4 linked regions of the Homo sapiens genome follow. The protein of the gene in region 3 purifies or fractionates together with the protein of the main gene of each other region. This does not show direct contact. Each region holds a gene or a part of one and is shown on either strand. Other genes may lie near its edges.

What was found.
Region 1: the proteins of KCNA10 (region 3) and KCNAB2 purify together in Homo sapiens (affinity purification with mass spectrometry; 2 studies listed by BioGRID and IntAct, with this or other methods). This does not show direct contact.
Region 2: the proteins of KCNA10 (region 3) and SLC12A9 purify together in Homo sapiens (affinity purification with mass spectrometry; 2 studies listed by BioGRID and IntAct, with this or other methods). This does not show direct contact.
Region 4: the proteins of KCNA10 (region 3) and CHSY1 purify together in Homo sapiens (affinity purification with mass spectrometry; 2 studies listed by BioGRID and IntAct, with this or other methods). This does not show direct contact.

The regions. Positions count from the first base shown.
Region 1 is NC_000001.11:6,041,408-6,048,888, forward strand, and holds the start of KCNAB2 (voltage-gated potassium channel subunit beta-2), read left to right. Parts: upstream 1-4,480; 5' UTR 4,481-4,776; intron 4,777-7,481.
Region 2 is NC_000007.14:100,847,885-100,855,727, reverse strand, and holds the start of SLC12A9 (solute carrier family 12 member 9), read right to left. Parts: upstream 3,016-7,843; 5' UTR 2,893-3,015; exon of another isoform or gene 2,710-2,892; intron 1,573-2,709; 5' UTR 1,531-1,572; coding exon 1,350-1,530; intron 1,109-1,349; coding exon 974-1,108; intron 23-973; coding exon 1-22. UniProt on the Homo sapiens protein: May be an inhibitor of SLC12A1. Seems to correspond to a subunit of a multimeric transport system and thus, additional subunits may be required for its function. May play a role in lysosomal ion flux and osmoregulation.
Region 3 is NC_000001.11:110,516,696-110,523,576, forward strand, and holds KCNA10 (potassium voltage-gated channel subfamily A member 10), read right to left. Parts: upstream 2,481-6,881; 5' UTR 2,093-2,480; coding exon 557-2,092; 3' UTR 522-556; downstream 1-521. UniProt on the Homo sapiens protein: Voltage-gated potassium ion channel that mediates K(+) permeability of excitable membranes.
Region 4 is NC_000015.10:101,249,030-101,255,938, forward strand, and holds the start of CHSY1 (chondroitin sulfate synthase 1), read right to left. Parts: upstream 3,020-6,909; 5' UTR 2,428-3,019; coding exon 2,108-2,427; intron 1-2,107. UniProt on the Homo sapiens protein: Has both beta-1,3-glucuronic acid and beta-1,4-N-acetylgalactosamine transferase activity. Transfers glucuronic acid (GlcUA) from UDP-GlcUA and N-acetylgalactosamine (GalNAc) from UDP-GalNAc to the non-reducing end of the elongating chondroitin polymer.

The sequences.
Region 1 (7,481 bases), about 100 Mb from region 3:
AGAGCCAGGCGGGCAGGTGCGGGTTTGCCAGCACGCGGGTGCTCTGCACGTCTGGGTTGGAGGGTTTTCAGCCATTGCCCACAAGCATATTGCAAAGCAAGTCCTGAAGCACATTCAATCCAAACCAACCCTCACTCGGAGGTTCACCACGGAAAACAGGGCCTGGCATGGAAGGAGCCCTTGGTGTCCAGGAAACTGGCTCCGGGTCTCTGCCCCGTGGCCACCGGGTGGCGCTGCTGCAGAGCACTTGGCACCGGCTGCGCTTCCTCAGAGACTGCCCTGAGCAGGCGACTGGTGGGGGCCCGGGGGCATGGGACATTGGTGGTTCTTTCTGACCTGCACCTGCTGGGGTTGATGCCAACTGTGGACTCTCTCTCTTCTCTCCCTTTCTCCTTTTTCTCTTTTCTCCATTGCTGTCCGAAGTACTCGGTATGGGAGTCCCAAAAGACAGCTCCAGTTTTACAGGTAATGAGTCTTCATTCTCCCTAAAACCCAGCGAGCCGAAGGCCAGGGAGCGGGTGGGAGGACTGCACCCTTGCCGAGCAGGGTGTGCTGGTGTATTCTCTGAAGCCAAAGCCCCCGAGACCCCCAGGCTCTGCTCATCACCCTCTGTGCCTACCCACAGGATGCTGTGCAATGTCCTGATGGAAAATGTGAAGTCAGGTTAATTGTATGTGTTGGTCTGCCAGAAGTTTGCTTTGATTTGAGCAAATGGGCTTTTGATGACTGCCAAGCTCTCAGCCAAATCTACCGTTAAAGCTTCACTCATCAGGCAGTGAGGGAGATGTCTTCCTGTGGTCACCAGCTTGCCCTGCTTCCATTATCAGAGTACAGGACGTGGCGAGCCCATCCGTTCCCCCTTTGCCTGTGGGTTTGACCTGATCTGGAACTCACAGAGCTCCTCAGGCTCATTGAAGGTTAATGCCTGCTTGGGGGTGTGCAGTACTGATACGACGTGGATCAGTGACATCTTTCTGATATGTTTTTCTGTTGGTGAATTAACAAACCGGGCACCTGGCGAGAGACTGTGCCCCAGCAGGATGTGACATCAAGATGCCAGGCTTAGGGCCCTGCAGGGTGCTCTTGGGGAGACCCGTTCCTCTCTCTGGGCTGCCTCTCCCTCACCTGTAAGGCAGGGGATGCATGTTCTTGGTGCAGCCTCCAACCCTAGGAAGTAAAATGTCAGGGCTGCCTGGAGCCCATGGGCAGCAGCCTCCCCATGCCTTGGGACTGTTTGGGGAATTGGCACGGCTTCTGGCAGCAGGTCCCTGGTATGCATTGCTGCATCTTGGCGGTCAGGCCGGGAGGTCTCTCTATTCGGACCCGGACATCTGGTAACAGTGCTTTGGGGATCGTTGCCAATGTGCCAGGCAGTGGTCATGGAGGTGGCAATGTATTTCCATGTAGCTTTTCTCTCCCCGCGCCCCCACTCCCCACCCCCCCCCCCGTTTGCCAGCCATAGCACCTCTGATGGGGACCGTGGACCTAGATGCTCAGAGTGATCTGTGCCACGCCTTCAGTGCCTCCTCGGAGGTCCTGCTCCTTACAGGGAGCTCTGAAGACATGGCCAACTCTTAGATCCTACTGAAATTTTGGTAGATAAGATTTTGCTTAAGATAGTTAAATCTGAACTCCGGCTTGCAAATGCTTTCCCTGGATGAAATGTTTGTATTGTGATGTATGTACACATGGTATAACAGATCCTAACAAACATATGCCGCTCATCCCAGGGGATTTCATCAGTGAAACAAAACATGTACCTGAACTGCATCCTCAGAGAGCCGGGAGCAGCCTCAGTCCTCAGAAGGGAAGGGGTGAGGTCTGATGAGCAGGCAGGAAAATCCCAGGTGCAGACCTGCCAGCTCAAAAGGGCTGCCCACAGGTACAGACCATCCAGCTCCAAGGGCCTGCCCCTAGGAGGGGCCAAGTAAATTATCCAGTGACCAAGTGAGAGCCTTCCAGCCCACTCAAGGCCCTCAAAACCCCACAGGCTCAACATGTTGTCCCCCCCGCCGGGATCCCTGTGCTTAAGAACCTTCATTTCCAGGTGGCCTTCCTGGCCCCAAGGGAAGCTCTGAAGCTTACCCTCTAGGCTCTCAGCCCCAATTCTGGTGCCCACAGGCTCTGGCCATCCTACCCGTTGGATCTCCAGGGGGTCACTTGGGTGTCTCTTGTGGGGGCTCTGGAGATGACCTCTAAGGGCTAGGGTCTTTGTTTGTTAACAGGCTGGGGGCCACTCCTAGTAGGGCACCCTCATCACACCAAGCATACCACTAAACATGGCTATTGGATGGTTCTTTCAGTTACTTAGGCCTGGCCCTCTCACAGGGCAGAGGCGTTCAAGGCATGTGCCCTGCCCCCATGCAGCTCCCAGGCAAGGAATTGGCATAGGACACTGTGCCAATCAGCTGTCCACCAAGTGCTGCATAACAAACAACTCCAAAACTCAGTGCCACGCAGCAATCAGCATCTCTTCCTTGCTCCCGTGTCTGCGGGTTGACCAGGCAGCTCGTCTAAGCTGGCTTGGCTGGGTTTGTCTCCAAGCTGCAAGTTGGATCCCCATGTCCTCCATCTTCCCATGCTTAACTGGGGCCTACCCCAGGCATGTCCTTCCCATGGCAAAAGTACCAGAGGAAAAGCAGAAACATGCAGGGTCTCTTACGGCCTATGGTTGGGGTCAGAGCGCTGTCACCTCTGCTCACGTGCTTTTGGCCAAAGTAAGTCTCAGGAACCAGCCCACAGTCAAGGGGCTGGAAATATATTGCCCCCACCAGTGGGAGGAGCTATAAAGTCACATGGCAAAGGGCATGGGTACAGAGAGGGGTGAAGGATTGGGAGCAATACTTCCATGTACCCCAGGTCTCAAATAGCCCTGATGATCTCCAGAAGGCAGAGCACGTCACAGGAGAAGCCCAAAGAGCATTTGGGGTCCAAGGAAGGAGGGGCCACAGCCAGCTGAGAGCCAAGAAGACTTCACGGAGAAGGCAGCAGGGGCTTGGATCTGGTCCTTGAAGGCTGGGCAGGATTCAACGCAGAGGCTGGGAAGCATATTCCAGTAGATACAACAGCCTGAGCCACAGCTCAGAGGTGTGCACAGAGAACAGGAAGTGACAGTTACCCAGCCTGGGCCATCAGGGACATGATGGAGAATAAAGAGAGGCTGGCTGTAGAGGTGGATGTTGGTGGGGGGCCTCGAATGCCTAGCGATGGGGCACAGATGCACTCAGAGGGCACTGGGGAGCCATCTATGGTGTTTGAGCAGGGCAGGGGTCAGAGATCTGCTCTAGGAAGGAAGCCTGGTAGCAGGGAGTAAGACAGGGAAGAGAGAGGCTAATGCAAGGAGACCAGACAGTGCCCAGGAAAGGTGCAGGACGGCTGAGCTCCAGGAACTGCACAGAGAGAGAATGAAGGGGTGCAGGGCCTGAAAAAAGGACGTCAGAAGCCACGTCCACAGGGCTTGGCCACTGATGGGCAGGTGCTGAGACAGAAAGGGACAGAGAGGAGCAGTGGACCCAGGGAAGGAGAGGGCCTCATTCGGAGCATGTTAGGCTGCAGCTACCACCCAGTAGTGAGGCGCAGGCCCCCCGACCAGGGCGACATGTGGGGATCTGACAGAGTGGGCTTGGGCCTTTGGGGACAAACCATTTCAATTGCCAAGGCCTTCGCAGCTAGTCACCCGCAGCCAGGCACCTCCAGACTCTACGTGCTCTCCCAGCCTCCCACTTCATTTACCTTCCACACTGCGACTGGGGCACTGATTTCCTGTCCCCCACCTTCCCCCATGGCAGCTACCACTGTTTGCTCATTCATCATGGGGGGACGGTTCTGCCTCCATTCAAAATCCCACATTCACTGGCGCGCTTTCTCAGCCGGAAGATGATGTCACGCTGGGACTTTGCTGGCATCCTGTGACACGCAGTGACCCTGGGGGTCATGACCCTGGGGTTGGGGCTCAGCACTTAGCCTCATCCCAGAGCTCAGCCTTGTTTGGCCTAGTCTCAAAGCATTTCCCAAACCCCAGGTCAGGACATGTGCCGTGGAGAAGGGCTCCTGTGTCCCTGCCTGGAGTGAGTGGCAGTGTGGAGTCCAAATAGCAGGTTCTGGGGCCTTCCTGCCATTTATAGCTACCGGTAGTATCAGATATACCCATCTCGGGTGTATCCCCAGAGGACAGGAGGAGCATGCGCGTGTGCTGAGCAGAGGCCTCTCCAGACCCCCTTGGCTGTGGGTGGTGGCCCCATACGACGGGGCCCCCAGCTCCCCTGCTGCAGACACAGTTCAGAGTTGAGTGGTATGCGGAAGCCACAGGCTCTGTGTCCCGCACTCAGATACCAAAGAGCAAGGCCTGCCCCTTTCGACCTGTGGGTCCAAAGGTTTGTGTTTCTGGCACGCGGGGATGGTGGAGGCAGCAAGGGTAGGCCTGAGGGACGGGCAGGACCTCCCCCTCACCTTGGGCTGCACCCCAACCCCACGCACCGGGAGTCAGCCTTGCCAGGTTGCAGCACGGAACTGCACTTCCCGAGCTTTTAGGGGAAGAGGCACTCGTGAATAATTCAGCCTCTTTCACTGAGATGAAAACGCCCTAATAGAACTAATGGACTCGCTGCCTCAAAACTCGACTCTGGTGGGACTCATCTCATTCACCAATTGCTTCTGACGTCCTGCAGTGACACTCCCTAATGAAAAAGCCGCTGTGCCAGATCCTTAGAGTGTCTGGTGATCCCTAATAAACCAGACTGTGGCCTTTTTAACGAGCAGACGCCCCCACGAAGGCAGGTGAGTCCTCCCTTCAGCCGCTACCTTCCTAGTGGAGATGCCGCTTGGGGGCACGCATCCGCGGGAATGAAAAATAACAGAGGAGACCATATTTTGGGGTGGTTTTGTCTGATCCGGAATTAGACCCTCCGTGTTTTTGCAAAGCAGAAGACCTTAAAAAAGAGCCAGCCTGAGGTAAACTTGGAATGACCGTGATGGATGGGGTGGTGGGCGGCAGGTTTCAGCCGGGCAGCACCTCTCGCTTGAGTCTGCTCACAGCCCAGACCTGCCCAAGGCTGACTGTTTTCCCATCTGCCGGAGACACGGGCGTCTAGCTCGTACCTCGCTGTGTTCACCATTGATTAAGATTCAGCATTTTCCAGTTTTGCCCAGAGCGCTGTCAGGGAGGTTTGGTCTTGTCTGAAATGTCTGTGCAGGAAGCACGTGCTGAGGGAGCCAGGGGCTGCTTGTTTGGGCCTCAGTTTGCTGATTGTCCTTGAGCGAAAATCATTCTGTGTTTGCACTGAAGCAATGCCGTGTCTTGTAGAGCCGCACCCCGGAATGGTAGCAGCTCCCCTTCCATTTCCGCTTTGGAGAACTCTGGCTGGGCTCTCTGCTCTCTGGACAGGTGTCACCATTCAGAAGAGATGCTCAGGGTTCCTTCTCAATCTCAGGTTGTATGCTTTGTTGGCTTTCAGTAAACAGAACAATTCAGAAATTCCAGGTAGAGGAGTCTGGGGTGAGGTAGTGATTCCTACTGACTTAATGAGGTTAACATCTTCCTTGCATTTTTCCATGTCACGGTGTTAATTCACGTGAATTCCCCTGGGCCCCTGATCTACAGGAATAGATTTGCACCAGGCAGGCCCAGCCCAGGAAAGAACTTGTGGGTTCCACGTAATTAGCAATGGCTATTGAGGAGGGGCTCGTTTTTCTTGGTACCAGGGTGGTGAGGGAGTGTCAGGGCTCAGAGACCCTCACTCTGGAAAGCGGCCGGGATTTGGGATATTTTGAATTGGAAGTCAGGGGTCACTGTGCTCTTGAGCACAGGAGAAGTGGGGACCCTGAGGCAGGAGCCCGGCAGTGGGGCCACTCTCTCCTCCCTGCAGTGTCTTACCGGGGGGCCCTTCGTCCAAGGACCTGACGCTGCTAGAGTCTCGGCAAAAGCCCAGAATAGAGCCCCAGTGTGAGGGAGTCCAGAGGTGTCCTCTGTCCCCAGGCACCGCTGGTAACGGGCAGAGCCTCTTTGCCTTCTGCCTGTACCTATCCTTCTTCCCCTGGGGCAGCCCTCCCAGAGTCATGAGCCTTCAGGACCACAGGGAGCCCCCGCTGTACAGAGTCCTGGCATGGGAGTCCCCCCCACACAAGAGAGGGTGACCTGCAAAGAGCTGCTGGGTCTGAGGTAGGAAGCCAGCCCCGCCCCCACCAACAGCTGCCTGGCACTGCCAGGAAATGCCCAGGTATAGCCCTGGTTGGCCTTTTGGAGCCTGGGCCTTGGTTACTGTTCTACAAATATCTGAGCCCCTCCTCTGTGCACGGGACACTCCCGTGGGCACTGGTCAGGGGGCAGTGGCAGCAGGCAGAAGAGTCCTTGCCCTCCTGGACCCAACCTTCAGGGGAGTCCAGCGGCCATGGGCTCCTCATGGCACCAGCCCTGCTCCTCACCCCACCACCCCATGCCAAAGGCTGCCATTTCTGTGCCCGCAAGTTCCCTGGCCCAAGCCCTGCCCTGGCACCATGGGGACAAGCTCGTAGCAAGAGGCTCTGGGCTCCCTCCGTGCCGCAGGGCTCCCACCTGCAGGTCTGCTCCCAGGGCTGCAACATGAGCTCTAAGGAAAGATTGCAAGCGGGCCCCCACAGGGAGGGACGCCCTCTAAATCCTGGCCACAAAACCCATTCTGTCCTGCCCTCTCTCCCCTCTCCCACTCACATCCCCAAACTCAGCCTTCCACCATCTTGTTGTGAAGGGGGCGATTATTCACATCTGTGTTCTCTTCCCTTAAGCATTTTCTAGGGAGATTTGGTGTCTGTGTGGCTCACTCCTCTCACTCAAACCTGTGGTCACAAGTTCCTTCCCGCCCTGCCTGCTGGCCCCTGGTGGTGGATTTTTCTTTCCACAGCATTTATCATAATTGGTGTCTTATCCCACGCCCCCCAACAGACTGTCTTCTGGCTGCGTCACCAACTCCCACCCAGTTGTCCAAAGCCTCATCTCATGCAGCCCACAGCAGCCTGGTACAACAGGCCTCTGCCCAGCCTACCTCACAGATGTGGAGGCTGAGGCCGGGAGCGGTCAAGGTGCCTGCCTGGGCCACACCATGAGCAGGTGACAAGCAGAGCTGCCCCTGTCCAGAAGCTGGGCACTCAGCCACCCCGTCCTCCAGCCCCGGGGCCTTGGCTATATTTCTAGAGCCAAACCAGACCCGGATTGCTTTTTGTGAGTAATGTCTTGAAAGCTAATGGCTATTGATCTCAGCCTGGTCGGGCCAGGCAGGGAACTTGCGTGTCTGAGGCTGGTCCTGCCTTTCAGAAAGAGCCCTGGGGCTACAGCCTGCCCAGCTGGCCTTCTTTCTAAACACAGACCTCAGGGAAGTGAGGGTTGGCCCCCATTTGCCCCACACCGGACTGGCAGCTAGCCACATGGCCACCTCAGAAGCAGCTGCCTGCCACGCGCATGGAGGGAAGGGAGTGGCCGGCCAGTAGGCAGGGAAGGGAAGCTGGTGCTG
Region 2 (7,843 bases), on a different chromosome or scaffold from region 3:
CCCAGTGTGCGGCTGATCATGACTGAAAGTGGAAGCAGGGGTGAGCATTAAGGGAAAAGACTGAAATGGACGTGAGGAAGTTGCCATAGCTCCAAGCACTGAACCCAAGTGCAGCCAGGCCCCAGCCATGTGGCTTTGCCCAAGTCACTCATATCCTCTGAGTGCCAGTTTCTGCATCTGTAAAACAATCACTGCCTAACAGATGAGATTGTTGGACTAGAAATTGGCATCAACGTGCAGGGCAATGTTGATCTCCTTCACTATACCAGCCTGCCTGCTGCACATTTATTAAAACTTGCCCTGCCAGGCCAGGCACAGTGGCTGACGCCTGTAATCCTAGCATTTTGGGAGGCTGAGGCAGGAGGATCACTTGAGGCCAGGAATTCAAGACCAGCCTGGGAAACATAGCAAGATTCCATCTCTACAAATATTTAAAAATTAAACAGGGGTGGTGGTACATGCCTATAGTGCTGGCTACTCAGGAGGCTGAGATAGGAGGATCACTTGAGCCCAGGAAGTCGAGATCACAGTGAGCTATGATGGCGCCACTGCACTGCAGCCTGGGAGTCAGAGTCTTGCTCTGTTGCCCAGGTTGGAGTGCAGTGATGCGATCTTGGCACGCTGCAACCTCCACCTCCCAGGTTCAAGCGATTCTCGTGCCTCAGCCTCCCGAGTAGCTGGAATCACAGGCGGGTGCCATCATGCCCAGCTAATTTTTGTAATTTTAGTGGAGTCGGGGTTTCACTATGTTGGCCAGGCTGGTCTTGAACTCCTGGCCTCAAGTGATCCACCCACCTCAGCCTCCCAAAGTGCTGGGATTACAGATGTGAGCCACCGCACCCAGCCTAAAAAAATTTTAAGAATGAAAAAAACACTTGTCTTGCCCCTGAGCCAACAAAGGTAATGGCCCCTTCCACACCCTCCCTAGCAGGCAGAACAGGCCAGACCCCAGTCCATCGATGTTGGAGGATACAGTAGGCTCCGCCCCCCTGCACGGCTCCATTGGTGGCGATGGCACAGACAGAGAGGACGGTGAGTGCCAGGATGAAGTAGGCAACCAGCAGCATGGCCAGGGCCTGCAGTAGCCCAGCATGACCCACCACGAACCCTGAGGCAGGAGCAGCAAATCAGGTCACAGGGGACTCACACCCCATATCCCCCACCCCCTGGTTCTGCAGAGCTCCAGGGTGGAGCTAAATGCAAGCCCACAGAGAGCCCCTCCCCAAACCCTTCAGCCAACCGCTTCTCTTGGGTCCCCTTCCTAATCTTATCCCAGTCCCATCTCCACCCCTCCCCATCATGTCCTCCCATACTATAGTCAGTCCACACCCGCCCCAGGACCCACTCACCAATCCTCAGAAAAACAACTATGCTGAACATGGACAGGACAGTGGGCACCACCACACCCAGGAAGGTGGACAGCTTCCGGGCAGACGCCCCTCCAGGACCCCCGGCCCCATTGGCAGGGAGGGCAACCCCCTCCTCCCCCAGGAGCCGGTAGGCCAGCAGAGGTGAGCTCTCGCTGGCCATGGCTGAGCACAGGTAGAGGAAGCCACAAATGGGTTAGGTGACCTGCAAAGGAGATTATGTTGCATCAAAAGCTCCCCCACAGAGCTCGCCCACCCCCAAAGACCACTAATCAAACACCCTGAAGCCTCCCCAAAAGACAGAGCTGCTCTCTACTAAAAATACAAAAATTGGCCAGGCTCGGTGGTTCATGCCTGTAATCCCAGCACTTTGGGAGGACGAGGCAGGTGGATCACCTGAGGTCAGGAGTTCGAGACCACCCTGGTCAACATGGTGAAACCCCGTCTCTACTAAAAATACAAAAAGTAGCTGGGCATGGTGGCTCATGCCTGTAGTCCCAGCTACTTGGGAGGCTGAGGCAGGAGAATCCCTTGAACCCAGGAGGCAGAGGTTGCAGTGAGCCGACATCACACCACTGCACTCCAGCCTGGGTGACAGAGTGAGACTCCGTCTCACAAGAAAAAAAAAAAAATTAGCCAAGCGTGAAGGTGCATGCCTGTAATCACAGCTACTTGGGAGGCTGAGACACGAGAATCGCTTGAGTCCTGGAGGCGTAGGGCTGCAGCGAGCCGAGATCATGCCACTGCACTCCAGCCTGGGTGACAGAGCGAGACCCTGTGTCAATAAAAAAAAAAAAAGAGACAACCGCAAGGAAACAGGAACGCACCCACACCCTGCTTACCGGCAACTCAAAAAAGTCCGTGGGCTGCAAATGGTACCAGCCACTGCCCCACAAAAAAGTGGTACCCCAAACCTGTCAGCAGGGGTTTCAAGGCCCCTCCCGGCTCCTGGGGGCCACCCCTTCCCTTATGTTCCTGAGACTAGGGATGGCACCGGTTCTGGAAAGGGGCAAAGGTTCTCTGACGGCACAGGCTTCTCCAGCCTCTCCTTCCTTAACTAGCAATGCAAGAGGAACCAAATCTCCCAAAAGGGAAGTAAGTTACGGGCAGGAGAGCCTTCCCCATCCTCTCCTTCGGTGTCCTGAGCTGCCCCTACCAAGCCCCCCAATGCAATCACCGCACCCACAGGTAACAAGAAACTTCCAACTCTTTCAAAACCCCACCCTCCGTCAATCCTCTCCCTCAACCCATCTCAAACCCCCTCCTCCTCGCCTTAGCCTCCCCGATTCCTCCCATCCACACGAGGCACCCCTCCCCACAAACTCTACCAACCCAAACACACCCTAGCGAAACAGAAACACAGACCGGCTCCCACCGAGCGACACAAGGTCCCCGGGTCCTCCTCCTCCCCCAATCCGGGCTCCTGCCCCTTTGCGCCCGTTGGGGTGCAAGGGAGCCAAGATATCCTTCTCCCCGGCCAGGTGCACCCCACAGCTCGGGGGCCGCGAGGCGCTCACTCACCCACCCGCAGGACGCAGCGCTCGGGGGCGATCCCCGCGAGCCGGGGGGCTCCGCTCGGGCGGAGAGTGCACGGGGGCCGGAAAAGACAGCTGCGGCTACCGGGATGCCAGGCCTGGAGCCTGTCCCCACCCCCACCAGCACGCGCGCGCTATTGGTCCCCGTCCTCGGCCCCGCCCCATGGCGCGCCCGGAGAAGCCCGACCCTCTCTGCTCTTCCCCAGCCTGCGCTGCTCCAGCTCCACGTGCGCCCGGGGATGCAATGCAGCCCTGCAGACAAGCGTCTCCGGCAGGACGTGGGCCGCGGGTCTCGGAGCCTCCTTCACTTAGGTACAAACAATCGTCGCCGCAGGGGCCGGACCCCAGTCCGAGCTCCGAGGTGCGGTGAGCAGCCACCCCACTAAAGGGGGCGTGTGAGGATGGCGGAAAGCGGCAGGGAGGTGGGCGGGGCTGCAACACCTGGGCCAGGTGCGTCACGGGAAATCCGGCCCACTTCGTTCAGGGACTTCTGGAGTTCTAGTCCTCCAACCTCTCAAAACCCTAGAACCTCCACCGGGTCCCAGCCTCGCCCCTCACCCGCTGCGGGGATCCTCCCTTCGCGCCCGATCCAGCTGCGCTCTTCGCTTCCGCCACCGGAGGGAGCCATTGGCCGCCGATCTGGGCCCAGGGTCGCTTTGCACCGTCTGATGCCCGCTTTCTTGCCTCCCTGCAGTGTTCTCACTTCCAGCAGAAATCCTAGAGCCTATGAACTCTACTGAGAGCTGAGACTCCTTCTTCACTCTTTACAGATCCCATGAACAGCAGTACCACCTGCCAACGCGTCCTCATATGTAAAATGGGCATAAACTCGAACCTCCCTCCTAAGGCTGTGAGTTCAGTGAGCATTTAATGGGCACTTTAGAACAACGCCTAAAGGTTTGATAAATTATCCCTTGCAAATAGCACTGCATTAAATTAGCCACTCTGTGAGGTAGGTACCGCTATTTCAATTTTTCAGATTAGGAAATTGGAGCTTGGAAAGTTTCAGATACATTTCCTTTTTTTTTTTTTTTTTTTTTTGATCCAGGAACTATTACACAGGCTGGAGTGCAGTGGCGCGATCTCGTGTCACTACAACCTCTGCATTTCCGGCTCAAGCATCCTCCTGCCTCAGCCTCCGCAGTGCCTGGAACTACACAGGCACACACCACGCCTGGCTAATTTTTAAATATTTTGTAGAGACCGGGTTTCGCCATGTTGCCCAGGCCTCTCTGGAACTCCTGAACTCAAGCATGCGCCTGCAGTCCCAGCTACTTAGGAGGCTGAGGCAGGAGGATCGCTTGAACCTGGGAGGCAGAGGTTGCAGTGAGCTGAGATCGCACCACTGCACTCCAGCCAGGGCAACAGAACGAGACTCTGTCTCAAAAAAAAAAAAAAAACTTTTTCAGGGTCAGTTAGTTATAAGCACTCCCTTGGCATACCCTGGCCTGTCCGTCACTGAACTCTGCTTCCATAAATCTCAACCTCCACCTTACCTTGTTAGTCTGTGGTTTTGCCTTGGACCTTGTCTTCATCAATGACTGCAGCCCCTCCTCTTCAGTTCACCTCTTCTACTGCGCTTATTAAAGAAAAAAATCTGACTCTTGTTAAAACAGTAAGTCAGACTTTATTCAGGACTATTTTGATTGGCACCAAGAAGGTGGCAAGGAGCTGGGTGCAGTGGGTCACGCCTGTAATCTCAGGACTTTGGAAGGCTGAGGCAGGAGGATCACTTGAGCCCAAGAGCTCCAGACCAGCCTGGGCAATAAAGTGGGACCTCATCTCTACAAAATTTTTTTTAAAAATTGGGCCAGGCACGGTGGCTCACGCCTGTAATCCCAGCACTTTGGGAGGCCGAGGTGGGTGGATCACGAGGTCAGGAGATTGTGACCATCCTGGCCAACATGGTGATACCCCATCTCTACTAAAAATACAAAAATTAGTTGGGCGTGGTGGCACGCACCTGTAATCCCAGCTACTTGGGAGGCTGAGGCAGGAGAATAGCTTGAACACGGGAGGCGGAGGTTGTGGTGAGCTGAGATCTCGCCATTACACTCCAGCCTGGGCAACAAGAGCAAAACTCCATCTCAAAAAAAAAAAAAAGAAGAAGAAGAAGAAAAGAAAATTAACCAGGCATGGTGGTGCACGCCTGTTGTCTCAGCTACTCAGGAGGCTGAAACTGGAAGATCCCATGAGCCAAGGAGGTTGAGTGAGCTATGATAGTGCCAGTGCACTCCAGCCTGGGTGACAGAGTGAGACCCTGTCTCAAACAACAAAAAAGACTGTGGCAAGGTGTAGTAGCTTGCACCTGTAATCCCAGTACTTTGGGAGGCTGAGGCAGAAGGGTCATTTGAGGCCAGGAGTTCAAGACCAGCCTGGGCAACACAGAAGACACTGTCTCTAATTTTTTTTTAAAATCAGCTGGGCATGGTGGCCCATACCTGTAGTCCCAGCTACTCAGGAGGCTGAGGTGGGAGGATGGAGGCTGTGGTGAGCTATGATCCTATGGCTGCACACCCATCTGGGTGATAGAGCAAGACCTTATCTCAATAAAAAAAAAAAAAAAGAAAGAAAGAAAAGGAAGGAAGGAATGAAGGAAGGAAAGAAGGGAGGGAGGGAGGGAAGGAAAGAAGGGAGGGAGGGAAAAGAAGGAGGCTGGGCATTGTGGCTCACGCCTGTAATCCCAGCACTTTGGGAGGCCAAGGCAGGCAGATCACTTAAGGTCAGGAGTTCAAGACCAGCCTGGCCAAAATGGGGAAACCCTGTCTCTACTAAAAATACAAAAATTAGCCGGGCGTGGTGGCAGGCAACCGTAGTCCCAGCCACTCGGGAGGCTGACGTGGGAGAATCACTTGAACCTGGGATGCAGAGGTTGCAGTGAGCCAAGATCACACCATTGTACTCCAGCCTGGGTGACAGAGCGAGACTCTGACTCAAAAAAAAAAAAGGGAAGGGAAGATGTTGGGGAGAGAGAGAAGGGGCACAGTAGAAAGAGGGTAGGATGGATGAACTCGGGATCCAGTGAGGTAGAGAACTGTTGGGCTCAGGCCTGACAGAGACTTTCTCCTTGACTAAATTTTAGTCTTCTCTGGGTCCTCTTTTTTTTTTTTTAGACAGAGTCTCCGTCTGTTGCCCAAGGCTGTAGGGCAGTGGCGCGATCTCAGCTCACTGCACCCTCCGCATCCCAGGTTCAACTGATTCTCCTGCCTCAGCCTTGGAGTAGCTGGGATGACAGGTGTCTGCCACCATGCCTGGCTAGTTTTTGTATTTTTAGCAGAGACAGGGTTTCACCATGTTCTCCAGGCTGGTCTCAAACTGCTGCCCTCAGTTGATCCACCCACCTCAGCCTCCCAAAGTGCTGGGATTACAGGTGTGAGCCACCGCACCCGCCCTGGGTCCTCTTCTTGACTGGGTCTCAATGTTGTGTTCCACTCCCTCCACATCCCACTGCCTTGCCAGGCCTGCCTAGCCCAGTTTAGAGTGAATCTGGGAGGTTGAGGGTGCAGTGAGCTGTGATCGCACCACTGCACTCCAACCTGGTTGACAGAGCAAGACCCCACTTAAAAAAGACATTTAAGCTAGGTAAGAAGGGAAGTGAAGGCTGGGCACGGTGGCTCACACCTGTAATCCCAGCACTTTGGGAGGCCGAAGCAGGAGGATCACTTGAGGTCAGGAGTTCAAGACCAGCCTGGCCATCATGGTGAAACCCCATCTCTACTAAAAATACAAAAATTAGCTGGGCCTGGTGGTACACGCCTGTAATTCCAGCTACTCGGGAGGTTCAGGCACTCCCACCTAGGCGACAGAGCAAGAGTCCATCTCAAAAAAAAAAAAACAAAAAACTAACCAAACAAAAAAACTCTCCTTATATTAGTTGTCTATCCTAGCTCTTTCTTTCTTTCTTTCTTTCTTTCTTTTCTTTCTTTCTTTCCTTTTTTTTGAGATGGAGTCTAGCTCTGTCACCCAGGCTGGAGTGCAGTGGCACGATCTCGGCTCACTGCAAGCTCTGCCTCCCAGGTTGAAGCGATTCTCCTGCCTCAGCCTCCCAAGTAGCTGGGACTACAGGCTCCCGCCACCACGCACGGCTAATTTTTTGTATTTTTAGTGGAGACGGGGTTTCACCGTGTTAGCCAGAATGGTCTCGATCTCCTGACCTCGTGATCCGCCCGCCTTGGCCTCCCAAAGTGCTGGAATTACAGGCGTGAACCACTGCGCCCAACCTCTTTTCAACATTTATACCCAGTCCCTTCACGATCTCATCCAGTCTCATAGTTCTATTTTTTCTGTATTTATTTATTATTTATTTATTTATTTATTTATTTATTTTTGAGACTTGGTCTCACTCTGTCGCCTAGGCTGGAGTACAGTGGCACCATCATAGCTCACAGCAACCTCTATCTCCCAGGCTCAAGCAATCCTCCTGCCTCAGCCTCCTGAGTAGCTATAGGCACATGCACCCATGCCTGGCTAATTTTTTATATTTTGTAGAGACAGGTTCTCACTATGTTGCCCAGGCTGGTCTTGAACTGTTGGGCTCAAGTAATCTTCCCACCTCAGCCTCCCAAAATGCTGGGATTACAGACATGAGCCACCGCACCCGGCCCAATCTGTTTTAATACCATCTATATGATAGTGCCTCCAAGGGTGTACCTCTAGCCCAGACCTCTACTCTGAACTTCAGGCTGTATAGCCAACAATCTACTACCATCTTTTTCTATTTTTTTTTTTTTTTTTTTTTTTTTGAGATGGAGTCACTCTGTCGCCCAGGCTGCAGTGCAGTGGTGAGAGCTCTGCTCACTGCAACTTCCACCTCCCGGGTTCAAGCGATTCTCCTGCCTCCGCCTCTCAAGTAGCTGGGATTACAGGCACGTGCCACCATGCCTGGCTCATTTTTGTATTTTTAGTAGTGATGGGGTTTCGCCATGTTGGCCAGGCTGGTCT
Region 3 (6,881 bases):
TACACAAGTACAAGGTATTATTATTATTGTAATTGAATAACTCTGAGCTCTTCCTCTTTGCTCACAGCAACCCTTGGTCTTTTCATATGCTTCCTCGTAGGAAGACCAAAACCAGTGCTTTTAAATCTTTAATATGCAAACGAATCACTTGGGATCTTGTTAAACTGCAGATTCTGATTCAGTAGGTCAGAGTAGGCCTAGATTCTGCATTTTCATCCTCCCGGGTGATACCAGTATTTCTGGTCTGGGGACCTGAACTATCCCTTCATAGGAAAAGAGATCCAAATCTTTCTATAATGTATTGAAAAGAAACAGTTTAGAAAATACAGTAGAAGTATGGGCTTATTAAAATAGCTTGTAGTCAAAGATAGTTATTGATCACAAAAGATACATTTTGATCTTTGGAAAGATGAAATGAGAGAAGGGAGAGGGAAAGAGGAAGGAATGAAGGGAGGAAGGGAAGGCAGAAGGAAGAGAGAGAGGAGGGGAGAAAGCGAGAGAGAGAGAGAGAGAAGAGAGAAGAGAGACAGGATGGACCCAAGAAGCCCTGGACTGATCATTTCCTAGACTTCTCTGTGGAACAGCCACCATTGGTCTTATTAAGAGAGTCTGTGCTGCCCATTCTTGAGCCTACACTGTTGAGGATTCTTTCAATTTCTCCTGGGATGTTCTGCTTTTCTTCATTCTCAGTCTCCCGGTGGTAGAAGTAATTGAAGTTGGAGACAATGACAGGCACAGGGAGGGCAATGGTGAGGACCCCTGCAATGGCACACAGAGTGCCCACAATCTTCCCCCCTGGGGTGGTCGGGCACATGTCCCCATAGCCTACAGTTGTCATGGTGACCACTGCCCACCAGAAGCCATCAGGAATGCTAGAGAAATGGGACTCTGGCTCATCCACCTCAGCAAAGTAGACTGCACTGGAGAAGAGGATGACTCCAATGAAGAGAAAGAAGATGAGCAACCCCAACTCCCGCATGGACGCCTTCAGTGTTTGCCCGAGGATCTGCAGCCCCTTGGAGTGGCGCGAGAGCTTGAAGATGCGGAAGACCCTCACCAGGCGGATGATCCTCAGGATGGCCAGGGACATGTTCTGTTGGGCACTCGGCTCTGTCTCCTGGACTAGCTCTGTGATGAGAGTTGCAAAGTAGGGGATAATGGAGATGATGTCAATGATGTTCATGATGTTCCTGAAGAAGTCAGTCTTGCTGGGGCAGACCACGAACCGGAGCACCAGCTCGAAGGTGAACCACACGATGCAGGTAGACTCCACCATGAAGAAAGGGTCGGTGAACATGGTCTGGGAGAGGACTGTCTTGCTCATGTTGAGATTGGGGTCTCTGACCACCTTTAGCTCCCTATCCTCCCGGAACTCTGGCAGTGTCTCCAGGCAGAAGATGGTGATGGAGATGACCACAACCAACACCGAGACCACGGCCACAGCACGGGCAGCGCTGGAACTTTCAGGGTACTCAAAGAGGAGCCAGAACTGACGGTGGATGTCATTGGTGGGTAGCAGTGTTTCAGGGTCTTTGATGAAGCCTTCATCCTCCCGGAACTGGTCCATGGCCTCACTACCCAGCTCATAGAAGGAGATTTCATCAGCAAAGATATCAATGGGAACATTGGCTGGGCGCCGAATTTTCCCACCAGATTGGTAATAATATAGGATTCCATCAAAACTGGGCCGGTTCCGATCAAAGAAATACTCATTTCTCATGGAGTCAAAGAACTGCATCCTTTTTTCCCGGTCTCCCAGGAGAGTCTCTGGGAACTGACTAAGGGTTCTGAGCTGGGTCTCAAATCTCAGCCCAGCAATGTTGATGATCACCCGCTGGTTTCCTTCATTTAGGACCACTGGCTCAGGCCCTGGGGGGTCAGCATAGTCTCCCGGAAGCTTGGAGAAGGCCGTCTCATGGTTGGTGCTTTCGCTGATGAGGATCTTCCCGTTGGAGAAGGAGCTGCCCCCAGGCCGGCCTTTTGGGCTGGTTGAGTCGAAGTCTGTGGCATAGCCTGGCTCTTCTTGGATTTCATCTGAATTATCAAAATTGACCAGCGCAACCTCCATTTCTTTCCAGCCACACACATCCATTCTAGGGGAGCCAGGGAAGAAGCATGAAGATCCTCAGCCTTCACTGCCTGCTGTGAGCTATGGAGAAGAAGAAGTTCATTATACAAGATCCAGGGCAGAATACAACTGGCCCTTGTTTATTGAGGTAAGGTACACCAATGGGCTAATCAATGACTTATTTGTAGCTTGGGAAGGAACGTCATGGTTATTTTGGCAGCATGCTTCCCTTAAAATCATTTTGTACCCCTGAGTTTGCATAAACTAATAACTAGGAGAAATTGCAAAAAAAGGATCCTGGCAAAGAAGGGGAGATTCTCCCCAGCAAAGGATGGTCTCCATATGTGATGGCAGAGGGGCCATACTAAAAGAGGAAGTTAACATTCCTTAATAATAAAAAGCATGATCTTGTATTTGCATGAAGCCTTCTGTCTCACCAAACACGTCTCCATGCCCAATCTCATTCGTAATGCCTCTCTTTCACACCAACAGCCAGTCCCTCACACATCCTTTTGGTCATGTCTTCAAAATATATCTAGAATTCAACCATTTTGCATCACTTCCACCCCTGCTTCTGGACCAAGTGGTGAAGGGTGGAACCAGATCTATGAACCCAATGGGGATTCTTTAGGGAAGGAAAAACAAGACGCTGGGTTGGCCAATCGACAATGTCCTCTAAATGACCCCTCACCTGGAAATAACTCCTAGAGTTGTTTTGAAGGTACCTCAAATGAGATAACACGTATGGAATGCTTGGTGGAAAGAAAGATCACTATATTATAGCTATTGTTTTTTGTCAACTTTCCCACATAACAAGCACTTTAGAAACTACCAGCAATTGGAATTTTTTTTGGCCTGAGTCCAAGGTGTCCATAGGAAGTAATTTCATTTTGAGAAATCATTTTAGGTGGGAAGGAAGTAAATAATTGTGTGTGTCTGTGTGTGTGTGTGTATATGTGTGTGTGTGTGTGTGTGTGTGCGCGCGCACGCTGGAGGTGGGGTTAGGAAATCATGCCCAGTGGGCTTGGACATCTATACACATAGACTAATATTTCTTTCCTCAGGTTCATTCTAGCTTCAGTTTCAATTTAAGAACACTGAACCCAGGCAGGCTGGGGGTGGGAGTGGGAGAGAAGTAAGGGACTTAACCTCAGGCAAAATCTGTAGTGGTCACAGCCTTGGAGAGGTTTCCTTTACAGGCGACAAGGCTATCCTGCAGTGTAGTGTTGTAGTCTTTTCAAAGTGATTCCACATTCACTTATCTCACTAGATGACAATAATCACGTGAGGTTAGATGTTATCTCTGTTTTGCAGATGCGGAAACCAAGTCACAGGGACAAAGTGACTTCCTAAGGTCACATAACTAGTGCTACAGAGTCCTGACCTAAACCTGGCCATGGCCTTCTGGCCCAGGGCCTTTCCCACTAGACCATGGAGTCCCTATATAGGAGCTGAGCCTTGTGGGGAGCTGTAGGCTAGGGCCACAGAATTGTCAGGGGTCCAGAGCTCTTTCCATCCCATGACCCCTTTTCTCAGTTCAGGTGCCATGTGTTGAATGATGAGCTCAAGTCTGGTTGGTCAGCACTGGTAGAGTACCCATTCTACCTCTCAGGAGTATGTGGCCATTGCAAACGGCCTAATTTCACGGAGCTGCTGCTTCCTCAGTTGTGGAATGAGGAAGGATGTACCCACTGCCAAGCATGCCAGGTGCCAGCCTGCTCTGCAAGGCTCGGTGAGCAGTAGGATGGCTGGGAGGCAGGATGGAATCTGAGAATAGAATCAGTCCACCCGAGTTCAAATCCTGGCTCTGTACATGGTAAAGCCCTGGAGAAATGTAGCTTCACAGTAATTCGCATGATGATTTGGGGGCCTTGTCCTGAACTGCTTGGCAGCTGGATGGCTGTGGGTGGGGGACTCCAGCTCTGTGTTGATCTCATGTCTTCGGAGCACCATTTTCTCCTTTGGGGTCTTGGACCGCAGATGGTGCTCCCTGATGATTATCTTCCAGGTGTGAATCAGTCCCGCTTTCTGAGAGGAATGAGTACCATCAGTGAGCTTTGGGCAAGGTTTGGGAACCACTTCCATGGTTCTAGCCAAGGCTAGAGTGACCCTTATCAGGAACTTCTCTGGAGGCCAGCAGCAGAAAGCATTTGGGGATTAGGGAGAGCTTCTTTGGCCAAATAATTAACTTCCTTTTTTGGGAGCCAGGCCATTTCCCTTCTCCCTGCCTCCTAGGTTCCTCTTTGTCACTTCCACCCCCAGGTCAAGTGACAGGTAGGAGGGTGTTTGATGAGGGTCTGATGGTGAGGAGGTGGCAGACAGTGCCAAGGTCAAACAGCATATTCCGTGGTCTACAGAAGTGTGCTGTGCAGGCGGCTCCACCTGCCCCATTAGTAGCAAATGTTAATCATTAAAACAAAGAGAAAAGAGAACCGTCTTGAGGACAAGGACCTGGTGTGAGGCTCTGCCCCACCACTTAGGAGTGTATATTTTAAAGCAAATCATTGGATTTTATGACTCAGCTTTCTAATCTATAAAATGGGTAAAAATAATAGTAATTCCCATCTCAAAGATTATACTGAGAACTAAATAAGGTAGTAACAGTGAAAGCACTTTGTAAATTGTAATTGTAAATTGTAAAATGACAAAAATCTCCCTTTACGTTTTCCTCCCCTCTGCTCCACACATAAACCCAATATAACATGCTTGTAGAAAGCATGTTTCACGTAAAGAACTGCAGGAGGAATTCTCAGCTCACTATTCTCCCCTTCTGCTCAGCCCAGTCCTGACTCCATGCCTTCATCCTTGTTTTGCTCTTGCTTCTCATATGCTTTTTACTCCCCCTCCCTTCCTCCATCATCTATTCCTCCCTGCCCATCTGGGAACTATTCAGATCCTACCTTGTCCCAGGAGCCTGCCCTGGCCAGTGTCTGAGAGAGCCCTCTGTCTCCCTGTGCTGCTAGCCTGCTTGTGTAGATGCTCACTTTTGTCCTCAGTTTGGAGCACCAGCTTCCAGGGGATCAGCCTTCACTCTTCAGCTCTCTTGTAAGTTTTCAGGATGCATGACTGTGTTTTGCAGAGCTTTTCCTATCAGCCTGCTTGGTCTTGGAGGACAGGATTCCCCTACAATCCCACCTGCGTCACCCCAGTGTCCAGCTCAAAGTTGCATATAGGAGGGTGGCTGATGAGGGTCAGGGTGGTGTTGGAGGTAGTGGGGCAGTGCCAGTTTCAAACAGTGTATCCTGTGGATGTAGAGTGATTATTTGTTAAGCACCTGCTTGCTAAGTAGGTGAATGGATGAATGAATGAAGAGTTGTAAGCTCATGAAGGCAGGGAACATGTCTGTCTTATGCACCACTTGGCTAGCCCACCTATGTGCGCAATTCATCTCTGGTGAGTGAGTGAATGAATGAGTGATGAATGAATGAGGGGTGGCGGTTGGTGCATGGGCTCAGGGCCAGGACACCTGCATTGCCTCTACAGTTCTGTGATTACTGACTGCTTGCATTACCTCATCCAGACTCCATTTTTTCATCTGTAATAAGAAAATATGCAGAGTCAAAGGAGCTAGATAAAAAGGATACACATATAGAATAATTCTATTTATATGAAATTCTAGAAAATGCAAACTAATCTAGAATGACAGGAAGCAGATCAGCAATTGCCTGGGGATAAGGATGGAGAGGGTGAGGGCAGAGTTACAAAGGGGCTCAAGATTGTAGGGGTGAAGTTTATGCTTCTTATCTTGATTTTGTGATGGCTTCACAAGTCTATACACTAGTCAAAACTTATCAAGTAGCACACTCTAAGTTTAGTGTGCGTCATTGTATTTCAACAAATCTGTAAAAAAAAAAGGCAATCACACAAACAAAAGAAATAAAAGTGCATGGTTTGCCAATGATTCCTCAAGATTTCGGCAAGGACCAAAGGGGATGGTATGATGCTCTGTAAACTGCATGGGTCATGTGGAAAGAGGGGATTACTCTTGCATAGTGCTCACTACGGTGCCCAGCACCATGTCTGCTCATGTTGCAAGAGCTCAGAAAACTGTTTAGAAAGAATGAATGTACCCTGGAGCCCAGGGTCAGTCTTGGTGCCCAGAGACCACCCAGCAGTGCTGTATCCCTGCAGATCAGGCTGTGGGCACTTTACCCTCTCTCAGAGATGTGCACAATGTCAAGGACGCCCCGGGCCATGGCAGGCTGGCTCTCTCAGCTTGGTGCTGGGCATTTTGTCTGTTTAGTGGTGGGAGAGAAGCCTCTATTTGCACTGGAAAATATCTGCTTCTCTGGAAGGGTTTCACTCTTTCAATAGGCTTTTGTACTATAATTAGTATTTCATAAGAGTCAAGATCAGAGTTGTTTCTGCCCCTTGGACTCACAGTCTGGGCTGCCCCCACTCTGTCCCACACTCTGGAAGGAGACGGACGCCTTGGGTGGGGTGAGTCACTTGATGAAGCTGTAACTTCAGAGCTGGGGTTATTTGGGGACTGGCTCCCATTGCAACAGGCAGGGGCCTGGAGTCTGCTCTGCGTGACACCCTTTGAGTCTTAGATCTTTTGATCTGCCCAGTGATCCAGGGCCTTGATGGAATTGCCATTACACCAGGCTGAACTCTCACCCATAGCTGAAATGATCATGACGTTCAAGAGTCTTCCATAACGTCCGATTCTACATGTAATCTCTGTGCTTGCCTGGCACAGTGCTGAGACAGTGCACCTGGCTGAAACAGATCTCTTTTCCTTGCTGAACATACTTGTACTTTCCTCCCTCCAGGCCACCATGTGGGCAGGTCCTGCCACCTGCATACTTCA
Region 4 (6,909 bases), on a different chromosome or scaffold from region 3:
CCTGACCTCATGATCCGCCCGCCTCGGCCTCCCAAAGTGCTGGGATGACAGGCGTGAGCCACCGCGCCCGGCCTGCATTACATTTTCTGAGTATTGCTGGTGCATTAGGCCCCCCACTGATTTGAATATATTGATACCGTAACCATGAAAATGTATTTGGTTCAGGGGGCATGGGGGAGATAAGGGAGTTACCTAATTTACTGTTTGTACTAACTGGTTTGTTAACTGTCCCCAAAACTGTGATTTCACATGGTCTATCACCACACTAGAGTCATGCGGATTTACTTTCAAAACCATGCTGTAAATAATCTATATGGCTCATCCTCGATTTCCGATACGGCTGTTTCTCTGGTCAAAAAAAAAAAAAAAATCCCATAAAACCTCAGGTAATGCAAGGTAGATCTGGGAGAGATCCTGATAGGCTGGTTCCCAAATCACTGCACTAGTCTATGTATCTCTATCTATCGATCGATAGATAGAATTTTTTTTTTTTTTTTTTTTTGAGATGGAGTCTCACTCTGTAGCCCAGGCTGGAGTGCAGTGGCATGATCTTGGCTCATTGCAACCTCCGCCTCCTGGGTTCAAGCGATTCTCCTGCCTCAGCCTCCTGAGTGGCTGGGACTACAGGTGCACGCCACCACACCCGGCTAATTTTTGTACTCTTGAGTAGAGACGGGGTTTCACCATATTGGTCAGGCTGGTGTCGAACTCCTGACCTCAGGCGATCCGCCCGCCTCGGCCTCCCAAAGTGCTAGAATTACAGGCGTGAGCCACGGCGCCCCGCCTGCATTAGTCTGTATTTACAATACCTGCATTCTAAGCTTTTCAAGCCACTCAGGACCCTTCCTGGCGGAATGTGGGTTCTGGACTTAAGCAGGACCCTAATGGAAATGTGCAGGAATGGGGATCAAGCCATTCAAGGGGCAGTCACTGAAGACCACTTTCACCTTCTTTCTCAGTCCTTTACTTTCTCCCTTAAAGGCAAGGGAGACCATATATGCTTTTCCCCTCACAACATCTAGTGCCTGAAAAATCTGACCAAGACTGCATTTAAAAACTGAAGTGTAAAGGTATTGGTTATAAGAACAAACAGCAACCAGCTTAGCCTGGCTCAGCACTGGCTGCTCTGAAATTTCATTACCAGACAACTGATGCTCTAAAACCATTCCCCACATTGGTTTGCTCTGTGGCTGGATAAGACCCAAACTTTATCCATACAGTAAGTGTCTCTATACTTCACACATATAGGGTTTCCATCAAATCCCTTTATCGAGTCTACAACCCTCTCCAACTTCAAATTCACTCCAATACAAATCTGATTCTAACCATGCCAGCCATTCCAAAATCATCTCCCTTCTAGAGACTACATTGGCTAATCCCTTTGTTAAACCTGAACACAATTCCAGCTGCTTTTATGACTCATTTGGCCAACTAGAGCCCAGTTACTGGATAACATGCATACACCACCAAGCTGAACTAATTAACACCAGAATGCAGTTTTCCACTGAATCTACCAAGGGCCAAGAACTGCTTTTCCCCAAGGTTCTCTCTCTCTGTACTCAACAGACTGGTGTGGTCCAATATGCTGCGGGCATTCTCTTTCATTTATAGGAGTGCCTCCAACTGCGAAATGTGAGAGTATGATGTGGAAAGGTTCTAGAACTAGATTAACGTACACGGGCTCCAGCTTTGCAAGGACAAAGGTGCACATTTTAGGGAATCCAGTATCAGCCCCAACTGCCTCCACTATCAGGTACTGTGCTATGAGTTTTCCAACATTATGAGGGAGACCCGATCTGTCGGGCCCTTCTAACGAGAAGCTTCGATTTGCAAAGGCTAAAGTGCCTTCATCAGGGTGAGAGGTACACCCAGCGAGGCCACACTAGTCCATCTGACCCCAAAGGCCATGTTCCTGAGCGCCGCGCTCACCATCCCGCCTCTGATCTTTTCTCCCTCGGCCCGGCGTCTCCCGAGAGGCAACCCGATCCCGCCGGAAGCCCAAGAAGGGCCTAGGAAGCGGGCGGAGGCGAGAGCCAGGAGAGCACCCGGGATGCCGGCCGCCGGGATGCCGGACGCAGGAGGCGGTGCCCGGGGAGCAGGGGCTCACCTGTAGGCGGCCACGGCCCGAGTCTGCAGGTATTTCTGGGCGGTCATGACTCCCACGAAGAGAAAGTTCCTGTCGCGCGGGCCGCCATCTGGGTCCGAGCCGGGCGGCCAGAGCTGCGCCCCGCGCGCATCGCCGCGCGCCCCGCCGGCCTGGGAAGCCGCCGCCTGCCCGGACCGGCAGCCCTCGGGGCTGGCGCGGCGCCGTGGGCCCGCTCGCTTCAGCTCGGAAGCCCGGGGCAGGACGAGCCGCGAGGCCAGCACGAAGCCCAGGACGAGCCCGAGCAGCACGCTGAGCCAGGCGCGCCGGCCGCGCGCGGCCATGCCCGCGCCGCTCCGCCCGCCGGGCCGCCGCCGCAGGCTCCGCGCGCCCTCAGCCCGCTGCCCCCGCCCGCGGAGGCCAGCCCGCCCTAGCGCCGCGAGGCCCGGCCCGGGCAGCGCCGCCGCCGCCGCGGGCCCGCCGCGCCCATCGCGGCCCCCGAGCCGCCCGCAGGCCCCGCGCCGGCGCTTTGTTCCGCACGCCCGCCCCCGCCGCCGCGGCCTGCGCCTTTAAGAGGGGACCATGCCCGGCGCGCGCTAGCGGCGGCTCGGGCGCGAGGTGGCGGCGGCTCCTCCCGCTCGCGCGCGGGGACGCGGGGCCGGCACGACGGCGACGACGGCGGCGGCAGACGAGTCCGGGCTCCCGTCCCGCCCTGCCCGCGTCCTCCGGCTGGCTGGGCTCGGTTCGCACGGCGCCTGTCCCCGTCCTCTTCGTAGCCGGCGCCGCCGCCGCAGCTGCACATCCTCCGGCTTAGCTCGCCATTGCAACAGGAGCCCCTCACGTCACGCACGGCGCGTTATGAAGTGGCCCCGCCGGCGGCGAGCCGTGGCCCCTCTCGGGATCCGTCCGCGCCGCGCGATTGGCGCAAAAGTGAATGAGGGGCGGTTCACGTGGCCGAAGTTTGACCAAAAAAAAAAAAAGCCCTCTCGGGCGCCCCGCCCGCGCGGTCTGCGACTGGAGCTGGCGGGCGGAGGGGGCGTGGGCCCCCGCCCGGCGCCCGCGGGGCCGGAGCTGCCCGTGATCCGCACCTAGCACCCGGCGCAAGGGCGTCCCCGCGAGGACGGCCGCTTCCCGCACCGCGGCGCCCGGGCGCGAATCTCGGGAGCCAGCCTTGCAGTGGGGGCTTCTCGGCCCCCAGACTCCACGCTGCGCACGTTCCTCCCGCACGGGCCGTCCTCGCTGCACCCCACGGCCACGCCCTTCCTGCCGCCGGGCCGGCCCCGCGCTCCCGGCCCCGCGCTCCCGACCACACTGCAGCTTTGTCCGCAGTCCCGCGGCCGCACGCAGGGAACAGCCGTCCCGGAGCCCTGGGGACGTGCGCGCCTGCGAGTGGACCGTGAATTCAGTTACCTTGTTCCCTGTTGCTAGTTTCTACGCTAAATAAGAAGAAGAAGAAGAAAAAGCCATCTTTAATACTTAAGGTCCACGCTTCTCATACAGTACTAGCATTTAATGGATCTCGAAGACAAGGAAAATGAAGTTAATGCCCTGGATGGTAAACCCTACTTTCATTTACATACTGTGTGGGCAGATAGCCGGCTAGTACCCCCAGCCTGGGACTTTGTCCCTACTTTAATATAGTCCGTCTGTAAAAGTGCCGTGGATTTCTAAAGACGGATTTTGGGTCCCAGATCCTCTACTCTGGATTTTAAGTTTTATACATTTCCTCTGCAATACTTCAGCTAAGGCAGCAAAAGCGGAGGTCTCCATACAACGAAAGTTTGTGTAGAGTTTCAGTCTTGTTACTTAGTCACCAGTATATTGGGGTTTTCTAATGAAACTTTTGAAGGGCAAAGTGTTTCCCTGGGCCTGAGAAGTTACCTGCATTGAATCAAATAAACACATGCCTGGGGCAATCCTTGGATCTTTCTTCATTGTTGACCAAATGGTTGAAATACTATCACACAGTTTAAAATGCCTGTGGGAGCTTCAGATACCTTCTCGGCACCTGAATGGTGGTCACTCTTGTTTATTCTTTGGATATTACCACTTTCTTTGACACTTGTGATTTATATTAAAAATAGTTCATTACCTACCTTCCCACAGAGCCCCTCCCTAAGGGGTGATCCACATCTAAAAATAAAATACTCATTATGCAGTGAATACAGGATTCCAGCAGTGGTCTTGGGAAAAATACAGAACATACAACCATGAATTACAGGCTCGAAAACCATCGAAAAAGGTTTCCACTAAGACCATAAACCACAAATGCCGAGGAGTCACCAGATCCCCCAAATTCAGCAGCCCCATCATTCACAGTGATTTACATGAAGTACGAATCTGGCCAGATTCAGATGTTCAATTTTGTAGCATATTCAACGATTTCAGTATTTTCTAACCTGCTTTAGACTTACCTAGTTTTCTTCGAAACTAGTGTCCAGTGAAAAGCTGGCCGGGCGCGGTGGCTCACGCCTGTAAACCCAGCACTCTGGGAGGCTGAGGCGGGCGGATCGCCTGAGGTCAGGAGTTCGAGACCAACCTGACCAACATGGAGAAACCCCGACTCTACTAAAAATACAAAATTAGCCGGGGGTGGTGGTGCATGCCTGTAATCCCAGCTACTCGGGAGGCTGAGGCAGGAGAATCGCTTGAACCCGGGAGGTGGAGGTTGCTGTGAGCCGAGATCGTGCCATTGCATTGCACTGCAGCCTGGGCGACAACAGCGAAACTCCGTCTCAAGGAAAAAAAAAAAAAAAGTATATAAATATCTGATGGGAATAATATTCTGAGGATGCCAAATATTTTGTCCTCCTCAATATCCTGGTTCCTAGTTGTCCCTCAGTTCCTAGGTTAACAGTCTCACCTGTCTCACCTGCAGGCTTAATGGGGGTCTTTCGTAATGTAGAAAGGATACCCTTTTCTTTGTAAAGGCTGAGCCTGAGGGCTTACAATTCCCTGGAGAAGGAGAGTAAGACATACGGGAACTCCCTCTGGGAGAAGAGGGATATGCCAGGCCAAGAGAGGGTTGGAAGGAGAAGAGAGAAACTGAGGTCCTGTAGAAGTCTGCCAGGGGCAGGGACCAATTCCGGCATGCAGCCTAGGAGCAGGAGGGCAAGCTCTAGCACATCTGGAAGGAGCAGCTGGATTGTTGAGCTGAGGCAGTTCTCCTGGGGAAGAATCCAAAAGTGTCCCAGTAAGGGGCCTGGCTCAGGAGACAAGGCTATCCTAAGTGGGGATTTCACAGCCAGTAGCAAATACCTGGAATCAAGAACTTCAGTGACAGCCAGAGACCCAAACAGCTGGACAGGACTGGTACCCCCAGTATGAAGGCCTGTCCCATGCCCAGCCCCACTAGTCAATACCAGCAAGGAGCCAGGGAGGACAACGAGGGTCTGGAACATCTGCCCCCAATGCACACACATGCGTCCTTCCCCACAGCCCCCTGGAGGCCAAGGCTGTCCTCATCCTAAAGCCCCCTCACCCTAAGTAATTTTTAAAGGTAAGGAGTAGGCAGGGTGATTCGCATTTATAGGGATTTCACTGCAGGGAGCTGAGGAAAGACTTTTCATGTTCCGGGCTTCTTGATTTCACTGTGCTACTGGCCTTCTCTGTTGAGGGAATCATTGACCATTTTTCTCATCATAAAAGAAGGGGAGGTATTAACTGTTACCAGGAACACTTGTAAGGAAGCCCTTAACTGTAGTTATTCCATGAAAGTCCCAATGGCACAGGAGTGGCCCAAGAGGTGGGCTGTGATGGATCAGGGATCAGGAGTGTGGGACCGAGTCTGAGCTCTGCGTGGAGTGAGTTCCACCTGGAGGGGCTCCGGGAGTCCGGCTCTGTCTCCAAATGAGTCTTTCTGCTGGATCACGTTAAACGGTCCTCCATAGTGATTCCAGACCAGTATTCAGAAATGTGTTCAAAAATCCCAGATCACTTAACTTCCCTTCTGTGTTCATGAGTGTGACTCTTTATGACACATTATTAAAGTTCATCGCCACCTACCTTACTGAGCATTTTCTCACAGATGGCAACTTTGTTCCCACACACTTCACATTTCTTTTCTGTTGCTAATACATTGAACGTCTGTTACCAGTATAACATTTCATATAATTTGCAGCAATTTCTTGGAAACCCTTGGTAAATACCTCAATTGTTTGTTGGCAGCAAGCCTCAAACGACCGACAGAGTTCCCTGTTAGAGCTTCTTTAAAGATGAAGCCTCTCCACTCACGCCTCAAACAGGGGTCCTTGGAAAAAGTGGTAATTTTTATTAAAGAAAAAAAACTTTCAGAAAGGCCTGTTTTAAGAAACAGTGAATGCTGAGGAGTTATAATCATCCATCCTTTCAGAAGGTTCTGTTCACTGCCTGCAAAGAAGAAAATCTATAATGACCACTTTACTAATATTGCCACTTAACCTCTGTTAACCCAATAAAACACTGCTTCATTATGAATGCTGCTATTAAACTTACAAGCAAGATCCTCATGAGGTTGTTAATTTCGCTCACTATTTCCTTCTGTTTGTAGCATTTCCAGTCAGATGCAGGAAAGGGCAAGTGAGCAGGGCTCACGTTCTGGTTTCACACACTGGCCTATTCCAGCCCTGGGTGTTCTGCAAAGTCCTTCAGTGCTTATCAGCTGTGTACACCGTTTCCATCAGACGCTGAGTCAGTGTGAGTGCTTCTCACACTGTGTGTGTGTGTGTGTGTGTGTGTGTGTGTGTGAGCTTTCATGTGTACGATAGAGACACAAAAGAGATTTAAGTTCAGTATAACCATGTGGACCAGCCAGATGGGATGTGATCTTCCTAACTAGAAAACGCTGG